Linked DNA regions of Homo sapiens: region 1 is linked to region 2. Evidence: fine-mapped expression QTL. A gene starts in region 2. The other region holds a variant in brackets. All regions are shown on one strand. Distances are between the middles of the regions.

Region 1 (12,136 bases), 27 kb before region 2:
TACTCATCTGTTGATGGACATTCGAGTTACTTCCACTTTTTGGCTGTTATGAATAATGCCACTGTATACACAATGCATTCATGTACCAGTTTTTGTGTGAACATACGTTTTCCATTCTCTTGAGTATTACCCAGGAGTGGAATTCCTGGGTCAGATGGTTAATCTATGTTTAAATTTTTAAAGAACTGCCAAACTGTTTTACAAAGCAGCTGCACTTTGTAACATCCCCACCAGCAATGCACGAGTGATCTGACTTCTCCACATCCACTCCCACAGTTGTTTTTGCCCATTTTTCCTTTACCTTTTTTTTTCTTTTGGAAGTGCTATCTCATTTGCATTTCCCTAATGATTAATAATGTTGAGAATCTTTTCATGTGCTCATTAATGAGTCAATGGTATGTCTTAAAGAAATGTTTGTTCAAATCCTTTGTCCATTTTTTACTTAGACTGTCTTTTTATTGTTGATTTATACAAAGGTCTTTATATAAGTTGGATGTTAGATTCTTCCCCAATATATGATTTGCAAGTACTAGGCCCATTCTGTGAGTTCTCTTTTCAATTTCTTGATACACTTTTCTTGTACAAAGAGTTTCAATGTCATGAAGTCCACCTTCTCCATTGTTTTCTTTTGTTGCTGGTGCTCTTGTGTCTTAGTCTGTGTGTGCTGCTGTCAACAAAATGCCTTAGACTGGGTAATTCATCAACAACAGAAATGTATTGCTCCCAGCTCTGGAGGCTGGGAAAACCAAGATCAAGGCCACTCCTGTCCGGGTGTGTCACCAGCAAAATCTGCCAAGCCCTTAACCTCCTCTGAAAGTTCTGCTCACCTCCTTGCTGAAGCCAAAACTTAAAAACACAGGTCTATAAATTGTGGCATAGACAACGTTGGTTGTGCTTGAGCAAGAGACCTTCCATTGTATTTTAATCCTCACTGGACTTACAGAGAGTAACTGTATATTTTGTGGCGGTGGTGGGTTTTTTTAAGCTATTTTTAAAATTGTAGTAAAACATATTTAATAATATTTGTCATTTTAACTTTCTAGGTGCACAATTCAGTGTCAATTACATTCACAGTGTTGTGCAACCATCACCCCTATCTATTTCCGAACTTTTCCATCATTCCCAACAGAAACTCTGTAAACGTGAATCCATGATTCCTCATTGCCTACTCCCCCCAGCTCCTGGTAACTTCTATCTGCTTCCCGTCTCTATGAATTTGCCTGTTCTAGATATTTCCTGTAAGTGGAACCATACGATGTTTGTCCTTTTGTGTCTGGCTTCTTTCACTAGCATATTTTCAAGTTTCCTCCATGCTGTAGCAGGCAAGAGAGTTTCCCTCTTGTTTCAGCTGGATAATGTTCCATCAGCTGGATAATGTTCCATGGAATGTATACACCTCATTTTGTTTATCCATTCATCATTTGATGGACATTTGGGTTGTTTCAACCTTTTGGCTATCGTGAATGATGCTGCAGTGAACATTGGTTTACTATTATCTGAGACCTTGTTTTCAATTCACTGGGGTGTATACTTAAAAGTGAACTGCCGGGTCGATGGTCAGCCCATGTTTAGCCTTGTAGGGAAACATCAAACTGCTTTCCACAGAGGCTGCACCATCTCACATCCCCACCCACAGTGTGTGAGGGTTCCAATTTCGCCACACCCTCAGCAGCCGTAGTTACGGTGTGTGCACACGGCCATCCTAGGAGGTGTGAGGTGTGGCTTGTCACTGTGGTTTTTATTTTCATTTCTCTTATGATTAATGAAGTTCACATTTCATGTGTTTGTTAACCATTTGTATAGCATCTGTGGAGAAATGTCTGTTCGAGTCTTTTGCCCAGTTAATTGAGTTGGATATTTTTTTGTTGTTGGATTGTAGGAATTCTTTATGCATTCTAAACACTAAATCCTTATCAGATAAATGATTTGCTAACATTTTTCTCATTCTCTGGGCTACCCTTTGATGATGTCCTTTAATTTAAAAATTAAAAGGTTTTTTGGCCAGGCACAGTGGCTCATGCCTGTAATCCCAGCACTTTGGGAGGCCAAGGCAGGTGGATCACCTGAGGTCAGGAGTTCGAGACCAGCCTGGCCAACATGGTGAAACCCCATCTCTACTAAGAAGACAAAAATTAGCTGGTCATGGTGATGGACACCTGCAATCCCAGCTACTCAGGAGGCTGAGGCTGGAAGATTGCTTGAGCCCGGGAGGCAGAGATTGTAGTGAGCCGAGATTGCACCACTGCAGTCCAGCCTGGGGGACAGAGCGAGACTCCGTCTCAAAAAAACAATAAAACAAATAAAAATTAAAAACAAAAAGTAAAAGATTTTTATATTGATCAAGTTCAGTTTATCTATTTTTCTTTTATTGCTTGTGCTTGGAGTGTTATACCTGAGAATCCACTGCGAAATCCAAAAATATTTACCTCTTTGTTTTCTTAAGAGTTTTACAGTTTGGGCTCTTATATTTAATATTTAGGTCATTGATCCATTTTAGTTAGTTTTTTTATATGTGTGAGATAGAGGTCTGACTTTTTGTTTGTTTTGTTTGTGGAAATCAAGTTGTCCTGGTACCATTTGTTGAAGGGATTATTCTTTACCCCAATGAACAGACTTTGCAGCTGTGTCACCTTCCCTGGATCCTTCCCTGTTATTCTCTGTTCTCTTTTTCAGACCATGGAGAAGCTCTCCTCCCTCTGGCCCATGAAACCTTTCAGGAATTTGATGGATCAGCTATCACATTCCCCTGGCCCCATCCCCAGTTTGCTTTCCTCCATGGAAGGAAGTAATATTTAATAAGCAGCTACTAAGTGCTAAACTAATGCATTGTTTCACTTCACATCACTACTCAGAAAGGTAAACACAGTTATTATCACCATGTGACAAATGAGAAGACTGAAGCTCCCCAAGGTTAAGTAACCTCCCTGAGGTCTCACAGCCAGACTGCAGAGTCCAGGGCCTTGTCATATTATACCGAGCTAATCTGCCAGTTTTGGTTTTTTTCACTTCGTCCACCAGAACAAAATTTTGAGTTTATTTAGCGTGTCTACAGGGTAGAGGCCATTCTCCCAGCTCTCTGAGGAAGAAGGTGTCCAGGGAATGCAGAGCTAGCAATGAGTCAGAGCTGAGGGGAGCACCGGGCCAGGGCCTGCCGAGGAGCGGGGAGTGGATAGGGTTTCGCTGGGTTCAAATTCTCCCTCCTAGCTGTGTGGACTGGGGCAAGTCAGGCCACCTCCCTGAACTTCCGGTGCCTCATCTGTGAAATGTTTACAGATGGTGAAATTGGACTTTCATTCAAGATGGCAGACCAAGTACACATAGAAACCATTCTTCAAACACTTAGCAATGACAGGAAAATACCAGGTATACAAGAGACCACTGCAGAGATGCCCAGAGACAAGGGTTGAAGCCCCCCACCACCTACCCATTAGGAGGCTAGTACCAATGCAGGGCCCCCTAATGTATGAAGCCAAGAGCACAGGCTCTCATATACAGCCCTTACAAGATACACATGCAAGAAATATTCTGAAGAGACAATGGATTCACAACCACTTCATGAAATTTCCACAAACTCCCCAACTGGAAGAATTTACGTCTGAGGAAATAGAGAATAATAGTGCAACCTTAAAAGAATTTTGCAATAAATATATTAAAAACTCAAAGAGATAAAGAAGGGAATAACAGCCATAAACAAGAACAGGAGGCCGGGTGCAGTGGCTCATGCCTGTAATCTCAACACTTTGGGAGGCCGAGGCGGGTGGATCACCTGAGATCAGGAGTTCAAGACCAGCCTGACCAATATGGTGAAACCCTATCTCTACTAAAAATACAAAAATTAGCTGGGCATGGTGGCGGGTGCCTGTAGTCCCAGCTACTCAGGAGGCTGAGGCAGGAGAATCGCTTGAACCCGGAACGTGGAGATTGCAGTGAGCCAAGATCGCGCCATTGCACTCCAGCCTGGGCAACAAGAGCAAAACTTTATCTCAAAGAAAAGAAAGAACAGGAGACTATGAGACAAAAGCAGGCAGATATAAGAAAGAACCAGGAGCTCATATGTGAAAAGTTTCATTGCTAGAATAAAAACTCCACAGAAGCGGAAGTGGAGAGCCAGAGGTGGGAGGGATTTAACAAGGCCACATGGGATTTTAGTGGCAGCCACGGAGCCAGAACCAAGGCCTAACTCAGGAGTTTGGTTCCGAGGAGGATGAATGTATGTGCTTTCTTCTCCCTTTTTTTCTTTCCCATTTCTCTCCCTGAAGTATAAGGTTGGTGCTGAGCTGAACACCACAGCCCCTTCCTAGATGAGAAACAGGGCTTCCATGCCTTGATTGGGCAGGGTGGGACAAAGAGTTTTGCCTCAAGATGGAGAGCTAACAACCTCTGTCCTCTAGAACATGAATTAAACAGAACCTTAATGTCTACAGAGGAGTTTGTTAAATGAAGCCCAGAAAAGCTGCCAATAGAGTTGCCTCTTACATATTGGCCTTGGGATAGTGGGCATGTTGGGTCTGTAAACCAAGTCCTCAGAGCCTTGGTTTCCTCAACTGTAAAATGGGTTCAAGAGTCCCCACCCCAGGCAGATGTTTTGAGAATTAAACAGGAAGTTGTGTGTTCGAGGCACCCAGCACATCAGAATTGCCTCCCACAAATACCTTCCTGGGGCTTCACAGCCCTCTAATTTGAGCTCAGAGATACCTCAGACAAGGACAAAGCTACAGGCACATGGGACCCCAGCCTCCAACAGAGAAGAGAGAAATTTGAAACCCTGAAGGGACAAAAGGTGAATGGAAGCAGAACAGGAAACTGATTCACCATATCCTCACCCATGTGGCCACAGGGCAGCCTACGCCCTTGGCCTTTTGCTCAGAGCAGAGGATGGGGCCTGAGAAGGTGCGAGCTCTGTGCTGGGCATGAGGCCATGAGACGTTCACAGCAAGAGGTGGCATCTGTCAAGCTGGCGCACATCTGAAAACACTGCTCAACTTCGCCACTTACAAGAGAAATGCTAATTTGTCTTAATTTACACAATAAGATATTTTTCCCATCTAAAATTAAAAAATGTTTTTAAAATGGTAAAACCCAATGCTAGGAAGCCGTGGACCTGGTAGATGGAGATGTTAGTTGCTTCCTGGCCAAGGAGTCAGGAAATATGAAACAAAGAGGATGTTACTGACCTCCCATCTTGATCACCGCACCAGGCCTTGCGTTTTCTTCCCATTTCCAAACTCAGCCTTCCAGCCCCGCCAAAACCTCTCTTTGTTTCCAGAAGGACATTCTCTCCCACTACACACTATTCCTGCTCCCTGGGATACTTTCTTTACGGTCCCCAACCAAATGTCACTCACCCTTCAGAACTCAGCTAAGGCGTTCCCTCCTACAGGAAGCCCACCAGATTGGCCCCTCTCAGCTGGCTCAGGAGCTTCTCTGGACCTCCAGGGCCCAGTGGGCTGCCACCATGCCAGTGGTTATCACCCTGAGCCTGTGTGCCTCATGACACACGTCTGGAATAGGCACATGATCAATAGAGGAGGAGTGAGATATTTGGAGAAGAGGTGTGCTCTGTATGGTCTTGGAACGGTAAAGGGAATGGGGGTCAAGGTTGGTGTCAGCAGCTGGAAAACCTTTCTAAGAATTGTAACTCACTTACCAGCCCAGGCTGCGTTGAGAGGTAATGGATGAGCTGCCCATCACAGGAGGTGTGCAAGCAGTGATCAGAAACTGCGTCCCTCAGCCCCTCTCCTCCATACCCAGGGAGCCTGGGCGGGGAGCTTTCCTAGCGGACATCACCCGGGAGGGAACGGGGAGCTTTCCTCGGGGACATCACCTGGGGGGGACGGGGAGCTTTCCTAGCGGACATCACCCGGGAGGGGACGGGGAGCTTTCCTAGGGGACATCACCCCGGGGGACGGGGAGCTTTCCTAGGGGACATCACCGGTGGGGACGGGGAGAGCTTTCCAGGCAGCGGCAGCGGTGAATGCAGAGGCCCAGAGGGGAGTCCGCGTGGGCGCTGGAAACCCTGGAGGAGGGTGAAGGGGCTTGGTCAGAGCCGCCAAGAGAAAAGATCCTGCAAGCACCTTCCAGGGGACTGTTGGGAAAAAGCTGAGTGTTGGGAGGGAAACTGAGATGGGGCTTGCATGACTGAAATAATGGCCTCTGGAACGTGTCTAGACTTGCTGGCTCCTTGCTTCTAGCCTTCCTAGGCTCCTAGATCGATTGTATTCCCATTATCTCAAGTAGCAGAACATGTTCCGTAGAAAAGCTAAACCATCACAGCTGTAAATCATGTGCTTAATGCAACGTGTCCTTTTGACAGCCACATTCTCACCACCTGTTTCTTTGTTGGATTACAAATAAATACCGTGGGCTCCCAGAGCTCAGGGTCTTCGCAGCCTCCATGATGGCGATGACCCCCTGGTGTCCCACTTTTATCTCTCAAACTGTCTTTTTCTCAATCCTTTGACTCTGCCGGACTTTGTCACCCCCACGACCTGGTGTTGGGTCTGATCACCCCAACAGGGGACAGGAATGGGGACCTGGAGGTGAGGGCCTGAGGTCGTGCTGCTAGCGGAAAAGGAGACGTGCAGAGGTGAAGCAGGCAGTGAGGGCGGGATTGACCCCAGCTGGCCTCGGCCTCTGGAAACATCGCCACCTGGAGAGTGCTCTGCGGAACTGCACCCTCTTTCGTTGGTTCCTCAGCGGACATCTCTGGTGGGTCTGTTAGCGTTCCCAATGTACTTGACACCCATTTTTTAATGCCTCCTTCTTATAAAATAAGATTACTTTCATCAATAATGATGACATGAAACATAATGATGACCAAAAGGCAATGAAAGCCACAATTCATTTACTGTCTGATATATTTTACATAATGTAAGTCGTTCAGCGACTCACAAATGAATTTTAATAAAACTGAACTACCTGCAAACCACGATTTAAGAAACCACTAAATTGATGCAATTTGTCTTAATTCGTTCATTAGCTTTTAAAACAATTAATTTAAAAACAATGTTTGCATTTTGGTATTTTTCAGATTCAAATTCAGTAATACGGTTCATACGGGAGCTAATACGTGCATCTACCAATGAAAAGCATTGTATCTCATGATTTGCAAGGCACCCCTGGGGGGGTGAAGACCCCAGCTGGATGGGGGAGGGGGGGTTAGCGTTTGTTAAAATAGCTCCAGGTGATCCTAACGTGCACCTGGCATGGGGCACACTCATCTCCACACAGGGGAGCTGGGCTCAGCCAGGCACGCAGCCCTTGGGCCCACACCCGCCTGGCCTCAGGTTCCCCACTCCACCCCAGCCGCTCACTCACATGAAGGTGTCCCTAGGGTGGAGAGTGGGACCCAGCCCCATCTTCCCAGGGGTCACTTCCAGGCTCAGTCCACACAAGAACAGTCACCTCCATGCACTTTTCATAACCCACCCCTCCCCTGACACCTACCCTCACCCCGGAAAAGATGAGGGCGCTCAGACAAGAGGGAAGCTGGGTTTATTCTGGTGATCTACGCCTGACCACCTGAGGATGCCCAGGCTCCAATGTCAGGG[C/G]CCAGGGGAAGGCATCCGTGTAAGCAATGCCCTCAGCTCAGGGCCCTCCGGGAGCCACCAGCCCAGGACAGGCTGCACAGCCGCACCCTCCCGGACCTCCCTGCTCCCCAGCCAGAGAGGACAGGGGGCCAGGCAGGCAATGCAAGGCCGGTGTGGCCTGAGACACCCCCTACCACAGCCCAGCTGTGTGTGGAGACAACCAAGCAGGGCTCAGCCAGACTGCAGGACCTGGGGTGGGGCTGAGGGTGGGGAAGAGCCGGCGTGGAGGGCTCCCCTGGGCAGCGGGAGCTCAGGCACAGGCAGCCTCAGCCTTCTGTGTGCTGCCTGGGGGCCCTTCCACCTTGCTGGCCAGGCTGTAGTAACAGGCTCGCATGCGCTGCTCCACGGTCAGGAAGTCGGGGCGATCCTCCCACCTGTGGGGCGTGGGGTACATCCAGGCTGCTGACCACGCCCCCAGGACCCAGCTTCACCAGTGGGTGGGCATGCACTGTGCTTGGCTGAGGTAGACTTTTGGGGCTCAGAAAGTCAGCAGGGCTGTTGGGGTGGCGGGACATTGGGTGGTGGAGAGGACTCTGGGGTGTGAGAGCGTTGGGCAATGCCACACAGCCTAAGGAGGCAGAGCTGCCCACACACAGGGTGCTGGGATGACCCCTCTACCGAGCGTTGACCAGTGAGGACTCAGGGGACTGAGTGGACTTGGTGTCAGAGTGGCAACTATTGACCACGGGGACCTGGGATATAGAAAGCTGATGCTCTGTGCATGCACCTGGGGCCAGGGTATCAGTGTGCTGGGGCTTAGATGAGAGGGAGTGCAAGGCTGGTGATCAGCAGAAGCCTGGAGCATGGCAGTGGGTCTGGCCAGCGGGGAGCGGCAGTATTAACGGTACTGTGCATGGGGTATCCATGGACTGTGTTGGGGTGCTAGGTGCTAGCCTCTTTGGGTACTGGGGTGTGGTGCCCTGGGTGTTTCCTGATGGAGGTGGAATTAACACATGTCGCAGGAGGGTGGGCCAGCCAGAGAGGGTGTCTATCTGTTGGGCTGCTTGGGTGTTGGGGTGTCAGCATGCTAAGTGCTGGCCGGTGGGGGGTCATGCGTTACAGTGTCCACACATTGCATGGGCAGTCTAGGGCGTCCGCTTGTCTGGGGGTGTGTTGCCTGTTGTCTGATGGGAAGTTGGGATACTGATGGTGTTAGGAGTTGAGATGTCTGAAGGTTGGGCTTCAACCAGGCAGAGGTGGGGGCTGGAATAGATGAGTATTTGGTACCTCAGTGCTCACCTGTCTGGTAGTTGGGTGCTGTGTGCTGGCTGGTGGGGACTGGAGTGTTGGGTACTGGAGAATCATCTCATGCCCTGAGTGTCAGTGTCATAGGTTGAGTAGCAGAGTATGGACCTGTTTGCGTGTTGCAGGGTCCATGTGTTGAGTGATGGCTGAGGTTTTAGATGCTGAGGCACAGGCCCACAGGTGGGATGGCAGGGTGTGGCACACTGGAGCAGGACAGCAAACCCTGGTGTGTTGGAGAGCTGGGTGTGGGGGTAGGGGGCAGCTGCAAAGGCTATGAACTGGGTGAAGGGCTTTGGGTGAGATGACATTGGGTAGAGTTATATTGACATCAACTCATCGGGCACCAGGACTTTCCAGGGGTCAGCCCAGCCGGGTCCCCTCCCCACTGGCACTCACTTGTAGATCCAGCAGTCACTCATGAGTGCGTACAGTTCGGGTGGACACTCTGGTGGGCACTCCATCCGCTTGCCCTGCTCGATGAAGGCCATGACCTCCGGCCCTTTCATCTTCTGCTCAAGCCGGGGCAGAGACACCTGTGAGTGACCAGTGTCCTCCTCCTCATCCCCCTCCCCACCACACCGCCCACCTGCCTCTGCCCGCGCCTGCCTTGTAGGGCTTCTGGCCGTAGGACAAGGCCTCCCACATGGTGACCCCATAGCTCCAGACATCGCTGCGGCTGGAGAACTTGCGGAAGTTGATGCATTCGGGTGCGTACCACTTGAGCGGCCACTTCCCTGCTGAGCGGGCCTGGGGAGGGGGAGATGCTGCTGGATCAGGGGTCAGGGACCCTCTACCCACCCAGCCCATCCAGTCGGGCATCACAGGGGCAGAGGCTTACAGTGTAGTAGCTGTCGTCGGCACCCAGTGCTTTGGAGAGGCCAAAGTCGCTGATCTTGGCGTAGTGCCGGTTAACCAGCAGGACGTTGCGGGCCGCCAGGTCACGGTGCACAAAGTTCTTCTCCTCCAGGTACTTCATCCCCATGGACACCTGGTGCAGCAGCTCGGCCACATTGCTCACAGGGATCTCCTCCCTGGGGTGGCGGGGAAGGCGGGGTCAGCTGGGAGAAGACTAGCCAAGTTCCCAGGGGCAAAGCATGCTTCTCTGACCCAGCTGGGCATGAGCCAGGTGACCATGTGTTCAAAAACGCTTATTGAGCACCTGCTGTGTGCCAGGCGTGGGGCTGGGGACACAGCAGTGAACAAAACAGGCAAAACTCCTGCCTTCATCCAGTCTCAAGGCTTTAGGGATCACCCACACGCTACGACTCCCAAGTCTAGACCTATGCCTGCACCCTCGACGTGCTGAGGTCTCACAGGCATCTCAAAGATAATGTGGCCTGATTGTCCCCATCCCCATGTGCACACACATATGGCTCCTCCACTGTCCTCTCCAGCAGCTCCTCTTTCTCTCACACCCAATCCATCAGCAAACCCTGGCAGTTCTGGTGTCAGAATCTCTCCAGAATCCACCGCACTCCTCATCTCTGCCTCTGCCACCGGGAAGCAGCCGCAGCATCACTCACCTGGACCCCCAGGCAGGAATAGTCAGCTCCGCCCAGGCCCTCGCTCCCTCCTGTCTCCCACTGTCTTGTCCTCTCTGCCCCTGAGTCAGGTCCTCCCCCTCCTCTGCTCACAGCACCCCCTAGCTCCCACCCAACTCAGGGTAAAACTCCAAGTCCTCCTGGCAGCCCGCAAGGCCTGGCACGGTCTGCTCATCCCCTCCCTGCCCGCACCACACGAGGCACGGGACCACCTCAGGGCCTCTGCACAGGCGGTGCCCTTTGCCTGGAATGCCCTTCCCCACGTCTGGGCATGGCGGCCTCCCTCAGTTTGTTCAAACCTCCCTGCTCACTGCACCTCGCACCCCAACACTCCCAACCCCCTGGAGCTGCGGCAGGCTTGTGCCCACCACACTATCTTCCCACATGCTCTAGATTTCATCAGGATTGTTACTTACTGTCTCTCTTCTCCAACCAGAATACAGAGCATGGATCTCTGCCTTGTTTATTCGCTAATGAATCCCAAGTGCTACTAACAGTTCCTGTCACTGAGAAACTGTCCAATAAACACCTGTCAAATGACTGAATGTGGGAGCCAGGGGCACACTGGGAAGGTGTGTGCACCAGCCAGAGGGCACAGATCAGCAAAAACGTGCCTTGGGGAGTGCAGAACTTGTGTCTGTGAGGGTAAGAGTTTGGGGATGAGGAACCACAAATGAAACTGCAAAACTTTTCAGTAAAGGGCCGGATAGTAAGGATTTTAGCCTTTACAGGCCACAAGTGATCTCTGTCACATCTTCGTTTTTGTTTCTTTAAAAAAAAAAAAATTAAAAATAGAAAACCACGCAGCACGTAAACAAAGGGCAGGTTCCAGATAACTGGCAATGGGCACTTTCCCAGGGGCCATGAATTTGGCCCAGGGAGTCTGGGGAGCAGCTGATGTGTACAAAGCTCTTACTAGCAGTGCCCTTTATTTATTTTTATTTATTTATTTTTTTGAGATGGAGTTTCGCTCTGTCCCCAGGCTGGAGTGCAGTGGCACAATCTCGGCTCACTGCAAGCTCCGCCTCGTGGGTTCAAGCGATTCTCCTGCCTCAGCCTCCTGAGTAGCTGGGAGGCGCCCACCACCACGCCCAGCTAATCTTTTGTATTTTTAGTAAGGACGGGGTTTCACCATGTTGGCCAGGATGGTCTGGATCTCTTGACCTCATGATCCACCCGCCTTGGCCTCCCAAAGTGCTGGAATTACAGGCATGAGCCACCGCACCCGGCCCTAGCAGTGCCCTTTATAGGTGCCGACTCATTCGATCCTCGCAAAGGCCCTGGAGGTAGACACTGTTATTACCGCACTGGTGCAATGGTGGACTGAGGGTTAGCTCTGCTTTGCAGGCATGGGTATGGGTGTGGGTGTGCAGGCTGAGAGTGTGTCCACGATGGTGTGGAAGTGCCCCGGCTTCCCACACACGCATGCACGCGGGTGCATGTCCACCATGCCCAGGATGGGCCCCGGCCCCACCCACCCGATGGCCGGGCCCACCCGGTGCTCACCTCTTGCCGACCAGGAACTTGTGCAGCGGCCCGCCCCCAGCCATCTCCATGACCAGCATGAGGGCCTCGGCCTGGCAGACGCCAATGAGCCGCACGATGTAGGGGTTGTCCAGCTGGTGCATGATCTGCGCCTCGCGCATCATCTCTTCCGTGTCTGCCTTCTCCGTGCCCTGCTTCAGCACCTTGATGGCCACGTCGATCTGCTTCCTGCCCGACCCGGCCACGGGAGGCACGTGGGCGAGGGGCACCGGCCCT
Region 2 (12,136 bases):
GTAACCCGATTGATTGTGACAGTGAGGTTGGGAGGGCCAAGCTTGAGGGGGGTCCTGGATGTCCCAACAGTTACAGACAGGTGGGTGTTCCAGAGATTCATAAGGGACTGCATTTGTGGCTCCACCTGGAGAAAAAGGTCACCATTCCACAAGAGTGTTTTTAAAAAGTCATGAAGCGGCTGGGCGAAGTGGCTCACGCTTGTAATCCCAGCACTTTGGGAGATCAAGGCGGGTGGATCACATGGGGCCAGCAGTCTGAGACCAGCCTGGCCAACATGGTGAAACCCCGTCTCCATTAAGATACAAAAATTAATGGCTGGGCCCGGTGGCCCACACTTTGGGAGGCCGAGGCAGGCGGATCACCTAAAGTCAGGAGTTTGAGACTAGCCTGGCGAACATGGTGAAACCCCGTCTCTATTAAAAATACAAAAAAATTAGTCGGGCGTGGTGGTGGGCGCCTGTAGTCCCAGCTCCTCAGGAGGCTGAGGCAGGAGAATCGCTTGAACCCAGGAGGTGGAAGTTGCAGTGAGCCGAGATCGCACCACTTCACTCCAGCCTGGGCAACAGAGCAAAACTCCATCTCAAAACAAAACAAAACAAAACAAAACAAAAAAACCCATGAAGGCTCCTAGGTATTCACTCTAAAGAAATGGAAATTTACATTCACACAAAAACCTACACAGGAACATTTATAGCCGTACTAGCCACAGTTGCCAAAAATTAGGAATAACTTACATGTTTCCCAACAGATGAATAAGATACACTGTGGGACATGCCTACAGTGGAATTCTACTCCGCGGTAAGTGGAACAGCATACGGAGACACGCAGTTCCGCAAACGCATCGCAAAGGCCTCAGGCTGGATGAAAGAAACCAGGTTCCAAGGGCTACGAATTGTGTGATTCCACACACAACTATAGGGACGGAAAACGCACCAGAGGTTGCTGGGTGCTGGGGGCCGGAGAAGGAGTGACGACAGAGGGCAGGACGGAATTTGGGGGAATAGTCTGTATCTTGATTGATGTGGTGGTAGTCTCTGGGCTGTATGCATTTGTCAAATCTCAGAATTTTTCACTAAAATGATATAAAAATTTTATTGCATGTAAATTATACCCCAAATTTTTAATTAAGGGGGAAAGGAACTGGAAGATACAGACACAATGGACACTAAAAATGCTAATGAAAATAGGAAAAGTGATTAAGGGCTGTCTACACTCCTGTCCCTATGTCCTTGACTCCCAGCCTCTCAGCCAGACCTGGTCTGCGCCCCCCCCCCAGGCTGTTCTCCAGCACTGATAGCACCCCTGGCAGTCTGTAGGCACCAGACAAGCACTCTGTGACCTCCTCAATCCTGGGCCCCCTGAATGGCCGACACCTATGACTCCTCCCTCCTGCTTGAGCCCCACAGACCTCTCTGGTCCTTCACAAACTCCCTGGCTTGCCTCTGCCCTCTGACCATCCTGCTCACTCTCCTTCCCCCACCCCCGTCCCCTTACTTGGGTCATCCTGTCAGTAGCTGTACATGCTGCCACACCCACCTCTCCCAGAGCCCAGATCTCTCGCCCGACTGAGGTCGGTTGGTGCTGGCATCATCTCCTTTGATCTCCACCAACTGTTTCCATTAATACAACCAACCTAAGATCCAGATGGCATGCTCATGCTGCCTGTGGCTGGCTGAACCTCACAGTCTATTTCCACAGAGCTGAGCCCCAGAGTCTGCAAGTTGCTCCTTGGCAATTCTTCCCCAAGGCCTCCCTTGCTCAAGACCCTAATGGCTACTGCATTGGATCTCCCCAGCCCTCTGCCCCAGCTGAGCTGTGCTACTTGCCTTCCTTCAAATGGATGTTCATACTTTCATCCACACAGCACCCTCCACCTAGTGCACCCTTCCCTCTCCCCTCCATCTTCTCCAACCCAGCCAGCCCATCCTTGAAGACTCATGGAGCCACTCCCATAAAGCATGAGGATGCAGGATGAGGCAGAAAACTGAGGGCTTGTCCAAGGACCATGGGTGCAGAGTAGCAAAGCTGGTCTCTGGGGCAGGAAGCTGTGGCAGGAAACTGTCGCCAACACAGTTTGAGAAGCTCCTCCCCACGTGGCCGCAGGTGCAGCCTGGGTAGCTAGAAGTGGGTTAGGGCAGAAGAGGAGATGAGGGAGGCTCAGTGCCCAGCCCAGGGCTGCCATCCATGACCCGAGGCTAAGGAGTCCCAGAGGCAGGCTCTCTTCCTGTGCATCTCGGCTGCGTCCCAGCTTCCCTGTCCCACTGCCCACAAGGACAACGGTAATCACAAGCACCACCCCACACACACAGGTCGGGTGGTGGGCGCCTCCTCTTCCACCCCTGGGGCCTTTCTGGACTGTCCTCACTAGTAAAACATGGGGCCCAAGTTCCCAGGGACCCCATGGCCAGAGATGCTGGGGAGGCCAGAGAAGGTGGGCAGAGGTGGCAGAGATGAAAAGTCCGGGGGCAAGAGGTGGGAGCATTTGCCACGCAGCGGCTAGCCGGAGTGTCTGCTGTCAGTGAGCTGCACCGATCTAGAGCTCCCCGGGGTGACCCCAGACCCCAGGCAGGGGATCAAATGTTTCTGTTCTCAGCTGTGTCCCTGCAGACTCGTGGCCCTCCCAGAAGACACACCCACCATGAGACCCACCCCAGCCCTCGACCTGCCTGGGCCATCCCGACGGACAGGACTTGGGTTAGGAGCCGCGTCCCTCAGTCCCCAGTGAGCCTGTTCATTCCCCAAGCCTGGCCTATGGTTCTCCCTAGGCTGACCCCAGTCAGCTTCCTCTTGAGCTCACAGTTCAGAGATCCTAGTTTGGCCTTCCCAGAACTTACAGCCCCTGGATCACAGCACAGAGATCACAGCAGAGCAGCCACGGGGCACCTGCCCCACACTCACAGCCCAGGCCCTGGGAGGATGATGGGAGGAAGCCTTGGAGCCTGGTCAGAAGGACCTGCCTGGAATCCCACCATTCACCCAGCCTCCCTGGGTAAAGGCAGTGCTAGATTACAGCTGTTCCAGAGAGATCAGATTCCCCAAACATGCTTCAAAGGAAAAAAGAGTCAAGGGGTCAAATACAGTTTCAAATGCTGTGAAAAGCACATTAAAGGCTCCGAGAAGACCACATGGAAGGACCTCTTTCAGCGTCACTTAATTCCCACACCTATTCAGCAAAGCCTTGAAGGTCTACTGTTTCACAGAACATTCCCTGGGCATCAGAAGCCCCCATTACATGCCCATCGTCAGAGCAGAGGTATCACACCAAAGCCACTGGACCTGGTGGGAGCGGGCAGGAGCAGCACAAGCTCCACATGTCCCCCCAGCCAGAGGCTCCACGTGTCCCCCCAGCCAGAGGCTCAGAGGCTCCTCGTGTCCCCCCAGCCAGAGGCTCCACATGTCACCCCAGCCAGAGGCTCAGAGGCTCCGCATGTCCCCCCAGCCAGAGGCTCCGCATGTCTCCCCAGCCAGAGGCTCCGCATGTCCCCCCAGCCAGAGGCTTGACATGTCCCCATCCAAGGCTCTGCAGGAGCAGGGCCCCAGCCCCTCACCGCCCCACCTCCTCCTACTGCCCCCCCACCACCCTGTTCCCACTCCAGCTCCTGGCTCTCTCTCTCTGAACCCCTAGTCCTCACCTGAGACCCTAAGTCCCTCTGAAGCCATGTTCCCTGCTCCTTAATCCCCCAGCTGTGCTCGGGCCGCCTGTGCCCACCAACAGAGGCAGCATAGGCACTGGTCGTCAGCACACGCCAGCTTGGTGACGCCATGAGCCACACAGCCGCAGTTAGCCATGGCTGCAGGCTCCTCCTTCATATGTCTTTCCTGACTGCAGGGATTGGATTCAAATCATGGAATCGTGGACCCACCACATGGTCACAGTGCAGCCTCAGCAGCGAGTGAAGCTCGCCAGACCTCCTCCGGAAAGCAGGGCCAGTGAAGGTGTCCAGCACTGGGGCTGCAGGGACTCCCTGGGGTGAGACTTGCTGGCCCCCGTCATGCCATCACATCCTCTTCTCTGCTTGAAGCCCTCTAGGCTCCCACCTCACTCGGGGTGAAAATGCAAGTCCTCAGGGTGGCCCCCAAGGCCCTTCATGATGCCCATCACCACCCCCCGCCACTCACTCCCCTCCAGCCACACGGGCCTCCTCATGTTATTCGTTCAGGTCCCTCGGACAAACCAGGCATGGTGCAGCCTCAGGGCCTTTGTACTGTCTGTTCCCTCTGCCTGGAGACTCTTCCTCCAACACCTTCCACTTTATTCAGGTCTCTGCCTAAGTCACCTCCTCCAGGAGGCCTTCCCTGACCTCCCTCTCCAAAATAGCCTCTCCTTCTCTCTCTAGCCCTGACCCAGCTTTGTTGTTCTTCACCACCTAAAAGATGATATTGTATCTATTGGTGACATAGTACCTTTGTCCCTGCCAGAATGTAAGCACCACGGGAGTGGAGCCTTTGTCTTGTTCTCCTACCTATACCAGCATGGCACAGAGGAGGTGCTCAATATACCAGGTACCTACAAAGGTCTGCAGTCCACTGGGATGGGTGGGGATGCCTCTGAGCACCGGTGGAACCTGACACCTGGGAAGGGGTGAGGGGCCACAGGGGCTTCCTTGGGTGGAGGATGGCGGGAGAGGAGGGGCCCATCCTGAGGATCCTGGCCACAGGCTATTCCCTCAGCCCAGAACTGCGCTGCATCCTTCTACTGGGCCTCCGGCTTCAGGCCTCCTCCGTTGTCCCATCCTCCCAGAAGCATTCCATGAGCCCTGCCCCCTCCCCAGCCTGGGTCAGGCACCTCCCCTAGGCTTCCAGGGTCCCCATCCTCCCACATCACAGCCCTGATGGCCTCTGTCTCTGCTCCTCAGTCCCTCACCAGGCTGAGCTCCCCGAGGCAGGGCCCACGGCTCTGTCTTGTTTTCTATGGAAGCTCCTGCTTCCTCCCCACAAATATTTGTCAAGTGTGTAAGGACAATCACAACAGCCTCTGTGCTGGGGACTGCACTACCCTTTGCGAGCATTAGCCATTTATTCTAATTCTCACCACAACTACATTTGGTGGGAACTGTTATCCCACTCCTCAGCTAAAGAAACTGAGGCTCGGAGAGGTCAATGTCACTCTCAGAACATGCAGCCTGCAAGGGGCCACCAGGATTTGAACTCAGGTCTGTCCAATGCAGCAGCCAGCACTAACCACTCCAGCAAATGTCTATTAGGAGACCCTGGAGAGCTGGGCTGGTGCGGGGTCAGGGTCAGATTCCCCAACCCAGCACACTCTCCAAGTGTCTGTTGATTGAACAATGCCCTTCCACCGCCCCTCCAGTGAGGCCCCCAACTCCGGCCTCCACTGCCTGTGTGACCTCAGCAAGCAGCGGTCCCTCTCTGGGCCTCAGGCTCTGTGACTGTAAAAGGGAGATGGGAAAAGGCGGTGTGAGTCAGGAGGATAGGGGCTGATAGAGACAATGGAACAGGGTGGGACTGTCCTGGGCCTTGTAGGCTGTTCACAGGATTCCTGTCCTGGACATGCTGGATGCCAGTAACACCCGCTGGGTCACAACCCAAACTGTCTCCAGGCACTATCAACTGTCCCAGGGAGACGGGAGGAGGTAAAATTGGCTCTGATGAGAATGGCTGCCTTAACCCTGTACCTTGGGGTGGGGCAGGGAGTGGTCAGCACGGGGTGGTCTGGGTGCTGCAGCCCCGGAGAGCATACAGGAACTGTGGAGTCCAGAGCCCGAGGCCACCCAGAGCTAGTGAGGATAATGAGGGTTTTAGTGAGACCTTTCTGCAGCACCTGTATGTGCCGGGCAGTGTGGATACAGTCACTCTCTTTATCCTCCCGAGAGCCCTGGGAGGGAAGCACAGAGAGATGCGGTGACTGGTCCAGTCACACAGCTGGTGAGTGGCAGAGCCAGAATGTGAAGCCAGGCCCCCAGGCTCCAGAGTGTGCACATCAACACCACCCCCGCAACACTGCCAGGGCAGTGGGGCTGAGGATGGAGGGCAGGTGTGAAGAGGAAAAGGAAGCTCTGGATTCAGCAGGAGGCAGCTTCACAGGTGGCACCTTAGGAGTCCCTGACCCTGATCTCTCAGCAAGGCATTATTAAACACCTCCTGTCTGCCTACTGTTCCAACCAAGACGAGAGTAATGAATCATCTCGAGCTGCTCACCTCATGAACTCCTGTTCCTTCCTGTCGGGGATGCTTCCTACCTGGGACACATTTCCCAGCCTCTCGCCAACAGTCAGGAACCAGGCGCCTGCCAGGTGCCCATATCTGCATGTGCATTTAACAGATGCACAAACTGAGGTCAGAGAGGCCAAGCAACTTGCCGAGAACACACAGCAGTTGAGGAGAACTCGGTGTTTTGCTCTTTCTCTCTCCAGGTCTTCCTCTAACCTGAGCTCGCCTACAAGTGGCTCAAGCCTGCCCTGGACTCCTCACAGGAATCACAGCATTCTGCTGATGGAGCTCACGGCCCTGGTGAGCAGCCCCCTCATCTTCACAGAGTGCACATGCGCTTTCTCTGGAGGTTTCTCTGCCTCCGAGAGCCAAGGATGCAGCCAAACAGGGCCCAGCAGGAGCCCAGGGACTGAGCAGGCCTCACCGTGTCCCCTGAACAGCCCCGCTCGGCCAAGCCTCTGGAGGGGGAGCTGCTTCCCTCAGCGTGGCCACAAGCCCCGTCTGCCTCCATCTCCAGCCAGTCACCACCCAGCCCAGTCCTCCAGCTCTCCTGGTCCTCCCAGCAACCTCCTGACTCCCAGTTAATATTCTGTCTTCCTCCTCCAGACACAGCCCACCATGGAGACGGTGGCCAGGTGCCACTCCACCCAGGCACCACTTACCTGGGGACGTACAGGTGGATGTCCAGGCAAACAGGCCACTTGCGGGGTCTCTGGTCCCAATGCCAATGGAGAGCCGGTTCTGGGTGAGGAATCGGGGCTTACAAAGCCGGTTTGGATTTCCCTGCAGCCCAAGCCCCCAGCCTGAGAGGGAGGCCCTGCCGCTCACACTCTCCGCACACACCCCGGGGGAGGATGTCACACCCCGCCAGGGTTTCTCACTCATGGATGGGGGGGGTTCATCCTCTGCCAGGTCTCCCAGAGCCCCCTGGGGTGGCCCTGGTGGCAGGACACAGGCAGAAGGCCCGAGGACAGCCGCTTACCTGAATGCCCCAGCAGCAGCTCTGAGGCCCACGGTGGGCCAGGCCTGCCCGGAAGGCCTGGTGTCTGCTGAGCTCCGGCAAGCAGGCTTGTCTGAAACTAACCTATTTCCTGGATGCGAAGACAGGAAAGGGGGCTGTGTTTGATGTTTACATCAAAGTCACAAAGTGCTGTGCTCAAGGAAAATCACAGGCCACGTGCTCCAGGGAGGCAGAGGGCATTTCCGGGGCCCAGCACTGCCTGCCCAGCTGCAGGATGGGACTGAGAGATGGGAATGAGGCTAAGCAAAGGCAGGGTTTCAGGAAGGACGACTCCAGCAGCAGGAACCGTCAGAAGGGAGGAAGCCTGCATACCTGGAACCGGAGGGTAGGCAGCAGTGGTGGGAAGGAGGGGAGTCCCAGGGCTCATGGAAACTGGAATGCCCCCATTTTCCCCTCAAAGGGGCGTCGCCCTGGGGCCTGCACCAGCTAGACAACCCAGAGGAGTGATTTGTTTATTCCACAGGCAGGTTAGAGCTGGAGGGAGGAGAAACCCACTGAGTCAGCCCATACCCCGAAGGTGAGAACCCCTTCTGTGCCAGGCATCTGGATGGCAAGGACAGCCTGCCCTTGCTCTCCAGTGGCTCGCAGGCTTGTTGGGGGCAGCTGAGTCCACAGGGAGCCAGGGCTGGGAGGCCGGAAGCCTGGGCACTGTGTGTCCCCAGAGTATCCCCAAGCCAGCCTGGAGGATGTCAGGGATGCGTTCCAGGAGGAGTCAGCCACCCAACCGAGACACAGAGCCAGGGCATCCCCAGTGCTAGCCCGGCCCACCTGGGACCTTTCCCACGAAGCTGAACCTGGCTGAGTGCCATCCCGCTGTGGCCACCACCTCCTCCTCCTCTTCCTCTCCTCCCTTCCCTCACCCTGTGCACCCCCTACCCTTGGGCCTGGGGCCACACCTCATGCACTCTCTCAGAGAGGGGCCTGCAGAGCCACTCCCTCGGCTCCATCTCCCCTCTAGTGCCCCAAGGCCTCTGGGAGCCCCTTGCCCACCACCTCCTTGCTTTCTTGGGCACTAAGGGAGTCGTCACAGCTCTCCTGTCTGTGGGGCCTCAGAGACCTGTGTGGAACTGCCCTGGGCCCACTGTGGAGACTCCTAAAGCTTTTCTTCTTGGGGTCCTGCTGCCCTTGTTAAGTGGGCTTGTGATACCCTACCTTGTTTTAACCTGAATTGACTCTCCCTTAGCTAAGAGAGCCAGACAGACTCCATCTTGGCTCTTTCATTTGCAGCCCCTTACCCACCCCGCTTCCTCAAGGACTTAATTTGTGCAAGCTGACTCCCAGCACATCCAAGAATGCAATTAACTGATAAGATACTGTGGCAAGCTATATCCGCAGTTCCCAGGAATTCGCCCGGTTAATAGCACCCAGAGCCCCGGCGTTTGTGTCCGGTTGATAACGCCCAAAGCCCCGTGTCTATCACCTTGTGATAGATTTTAAGCCCCTGCACCTGGAACTGTTTGCTTTCCCGTAACCATTTATCCTTTTAACTTTTTGCCTGCTTTACTTCTGTAAGATTGTTTTAGACCCCCACCTGTCCTTTCTAAACCAAAGTATAAAAGAAAATCAAGCCCCTTCTTTGGGGCTGAGAGAATTTTGAGCACTAGCTGTCTCTCAGTCGCCAGCTAATAAAGGACCCCTGAATTCGTCTCAAAGTGCGGCGTTTCTCTGTAACTCGCTCGGTTACAACAGGCTCAGCTCCCCAGTCTGCCTGAGGATCCCCTCACACCCTACCCCGAAGCCTCCTTGGGGACCTCCTTTCTGGCCCTCTACTATCCTCTGGCCGCCTGAATCCCCTTTAGAAAATCTGAGTTCCGGCTCTAGGCTACTTTTCTCCTTCATACAGCCCCCTCCAAAATGGTGTTTGCTAGCAGCCTCCCTTTTCCCCAGCGGCATCTTGAAACTCCAGGTGCAGCAAGCATCCCTTCACATCCATGCTGGACGCTCATTTCTTGGAGTATTGAGAGAAAAAGACACCGGCACCCTGAAGAGAGGAGAAATTACAGCATCAAATCACATTCATACTACAATAATGAGAGTCGCACTGATTATGTGCCAGACATTGCTGTACGCACATCACAATTAATAAGCCATTCAACCTATTTTCCAGATAAGGTAAGTAAAGCCCAGAGAGGTTAAGAGATGCCAAGTGGCCAGGTGGGATTGCAGCCCAGGCAGCCTGACCCCACCCACGTGCTGCTGGACATAAAAGAAGAAAACTTTGGTTGTAAAATATCTCCCCGAAGGAGGCCAGCGCCCCAGGGAGCTGGAAGCTGAGCCAGCTATGGGACAGGGTGCCTCTGTGTGGGTGGGGGGCTTCCAGTTTCCAGGGTCTTCAGGTCCTGAGAAGGGGATTCCCAGCCTCTGCAAGGCACTGGCCCTACAACCCTTGAGCCCCCCACTTCCTGTCCCAGAGGCTGGTCTGGAAACTACAAAGCCCAGTGCTCAGACAGCTCTGAGATTGGGCTACAGATAATCCGAGATTGGCATGCAGATAAGGTCCTCTGTTCTGCCAGAGTGGAAGGAGGTGGATGCATCTTTTGAATGTTTACAGTAAAGGGCAAACGGATGGAAATGTGGGCTAGGAAAGTTGCGGTGCCTTTGCCTCATCGGGTTGGGGTAAACATTCACTCTACTCATGCCAAGAGCCTCGAAGAAATTCATCAGTCACCCCCATATCCTCAGGTCTTTGCCCACACCTCTTCACCTGCCTATTTCCTAGTCCTCTTTCAGGTCTCCAATTAAGCGTGTTTTCCTCCAGGAAGGCTTCCCAATCCTCAGACCGGGCAGGGATGGGCTTTCTGTCCATTTCACCTGGAGCTGAGCAGGTCCAATCTGGCTGCACAGTTAAGAGAACACAAGCCACTGCTGGGAGACGTGCAGCAGGGAGATAGGGTGGAGGCTCCAGCAGGCCCGAGAGGAGATACACCCCAGTGCAATGAGCCCCAAAGGAAACAGGTCCATCCAGGGCCCCTCCTGGATTCCCTCTGGGTGTACAGAAAAATGGTGACTTTTTTTTTTTTTTTTTTTGAGACGGAGTCTCGCTCTTTCACACAGGCCGGACTGCAGTGGCGCTATCTCGGCTCACTGCAAGCTCCGCCTCCCGGGTTCACGCCGTTCTCCTCCCTCAGCCTCCCAAGCAGCTGGGACCACAGGCGCCCGCCACCGCGCCCGGCTAATTTTTTGTATTTTTAGTAGAGACGGAGTTTCACCGTTAGCCAGGATGGTCTCGATCTCCTGACCTCGTGATCCACCCGTCTCGGCCTCCCAAAGTGCTGGGATTACAGGCGTGAGCCACCGCGCCAGGCCAAAAATGGTGACTTGTATCTCCTTTCCTTCTGGTTCTTTTCTGGTTCTGCCACTTAACCCTGAGGGACCGTGAGCACGTTACTTAGCCTCTCTGCGCCTTGGTTTCCTCCCTTAGGAAACGGGGATAATGGTACCTGTCTTGTAGGCTGTTGTGAAAGTTAAAAGAGGCCTAAAGGCAAATGCTCCATTACTGCTACCACCACCGTCATCTCTCATGTCTAGTGACTGCGCGTCCGAGTGCAGCAACGGGATTCCCTTGCGCCCTCCAGGGGCAGCTCTCCAGTATTGCAGGCTGCCAAGCACAACTCAGGCGTCCCTGAAGGCTGAAAGTGACCACCGCCCTGCCCTGAAATAAAAAAAATTAATCCAGCTGGTTTAAGTCAGAAAAGAATTGCTTGACCACAGCAGCCACATGCTGTGCTCTCCCCTGGGGGCTTCTCAAGTGGATGGCTCCTTCGGAAGCCTTCAAACTGCCATGGCACTGCCACCTCCTGAGACCCCTGGCTACTTATTTATTCAATACTGAACACCCGTTCTATGCCAGACTCTTTTCCGGGTACTCTGTTCTATGGATCCGCAGTGAACAGCACATGAAAATCTCTTCCCTCATGGAGCTGACATTCTAGTGGGAGAGACAGAGAATGAACAAAATAGATAAATATTTCATAGAGTATGTCACATGGTTACAGGTGCTAAGGAGTAAAATAAATCAGAAAGGGTAGGCGAGGTCTTGAGCATGTAATTTTGAGCCAGTCAGGGCATGCCTCGGAGGGGATAACCTGTGAATCAAGACTTGAAGGTGGCTCACGCCTGTAATCCCAGCACTTTGGGAGGCTGAGGCAGGCAGATCACAAGGTCAGGAGATCGAGACCATCCTGGCTAACGGTGAAACTCCGTCTCTACTAAAAATACAAAAAATTAGCCGGGCGTGGTGGCGGGCGCCTGTAGTCCCAGCTACTCGGGAGGCTGAGGCAGGAGAATGGCGTGAACCCAGGAGACGGAGCCTGCAGTGAGCTGAAATTGCGCCACTGCACTCCAGCCTGGGTGACAGAGTGAGACTCCGTCTCACAAAAAAAAAAAAAAAAAAAAAAAAAAAAAAAAAAAGACTTGAAGGAGATGTAGGAGAGAGCCACGGAGATACGGAGATATTGGGGGAAGAGCATTCCCAGCAAAGGTCTTAAGCAGGACTGTGTCATCTGTGAGGTAGGAACTATCTTGTTCCCAGCTGCGACCCCAGCAACTGGAGTGGTACCTAGCACAATAGTACTCAATAAATATTGCATGGATGGGTGAAAAAATCCCACATATGCGCTTCAGGAACAGCTTGCTCTGGGCTCAACTGATGACCCCAAGGTTGTTGGCTTCATTCTCAGACAAGGTTTCTCCCTATGGTCCAAGAAAGTCACTCAGCTTCAAATCCTATTCAAGGAGCAAGAATCTATTTCTCGATATTACCGGAAAAACCCCCAGCACAGCTCATTGGCTGAGTAGATCACCTGTCCATCCCCCAGCCAATCCCTGACGCCAGCGGATGGCATGGGGACGTGGCTTAGGACCAGGTCACATGCCCCACCCACAGCACACTCTGGAAGGAAGGAGTGGCTGGAAGGAGGAGAAGGGATGCTGGGTGGGCAAAG

What was found. PIP is the estimated chance that this variant, and not a neighbour inherited with it, causes the effect. A credible set is the group of variants that fine-mapping cannot tell apart.
Region 1: its variant is the best candidate, but not a certain one, in a credible set for the expression of ZAP70 in whole blood (INTERVAL, PIP 0.77).

Annotation. Positions count from the first base shown.
Region 1 is chr2:97,735,202-97,747,337 of GRCh38, reverse strand. It overlaps ZAP70 (zeta chain of T cell receptor associated protein kinase 70), which reads right to left. Exons shown (of 14, transcript NM_001079.4): 10 at 11,882-12,088; 11 at 9,673-9,865; 12 at 9,441-9,581; 13 at 9,231-9,343; 14 at 7,478-7,963. The coding sequence ends at 7,840. Among named protein-coding and RNA genes, the nearest start is that of ZAP70, 28 kb to the right of the region's middle. RefSeq lists a silencer at 1,588-1,697 and an enhancer at 7,279-7,778. The variant C/G (reference allele first, on the strand shown) is at 7,551.
Region 2 is chr2:97,708,693-97,720,828 of GRCh38, reverse strand. It overlaps ZAP70 (zeta chain of T cell receptor associated protein kinase 70), which reads right to left and starts at 7,253. Exons shown (of 14, transcript NM_001079.4): 1 at 7,155-7,253; 2 at 6,835-6,913. RefSeq lists enhancers at 1,845-1,994, 4,210-4,724, 4,725-5,240, 6,472-7,445 and a silencer at 9,419-9,608.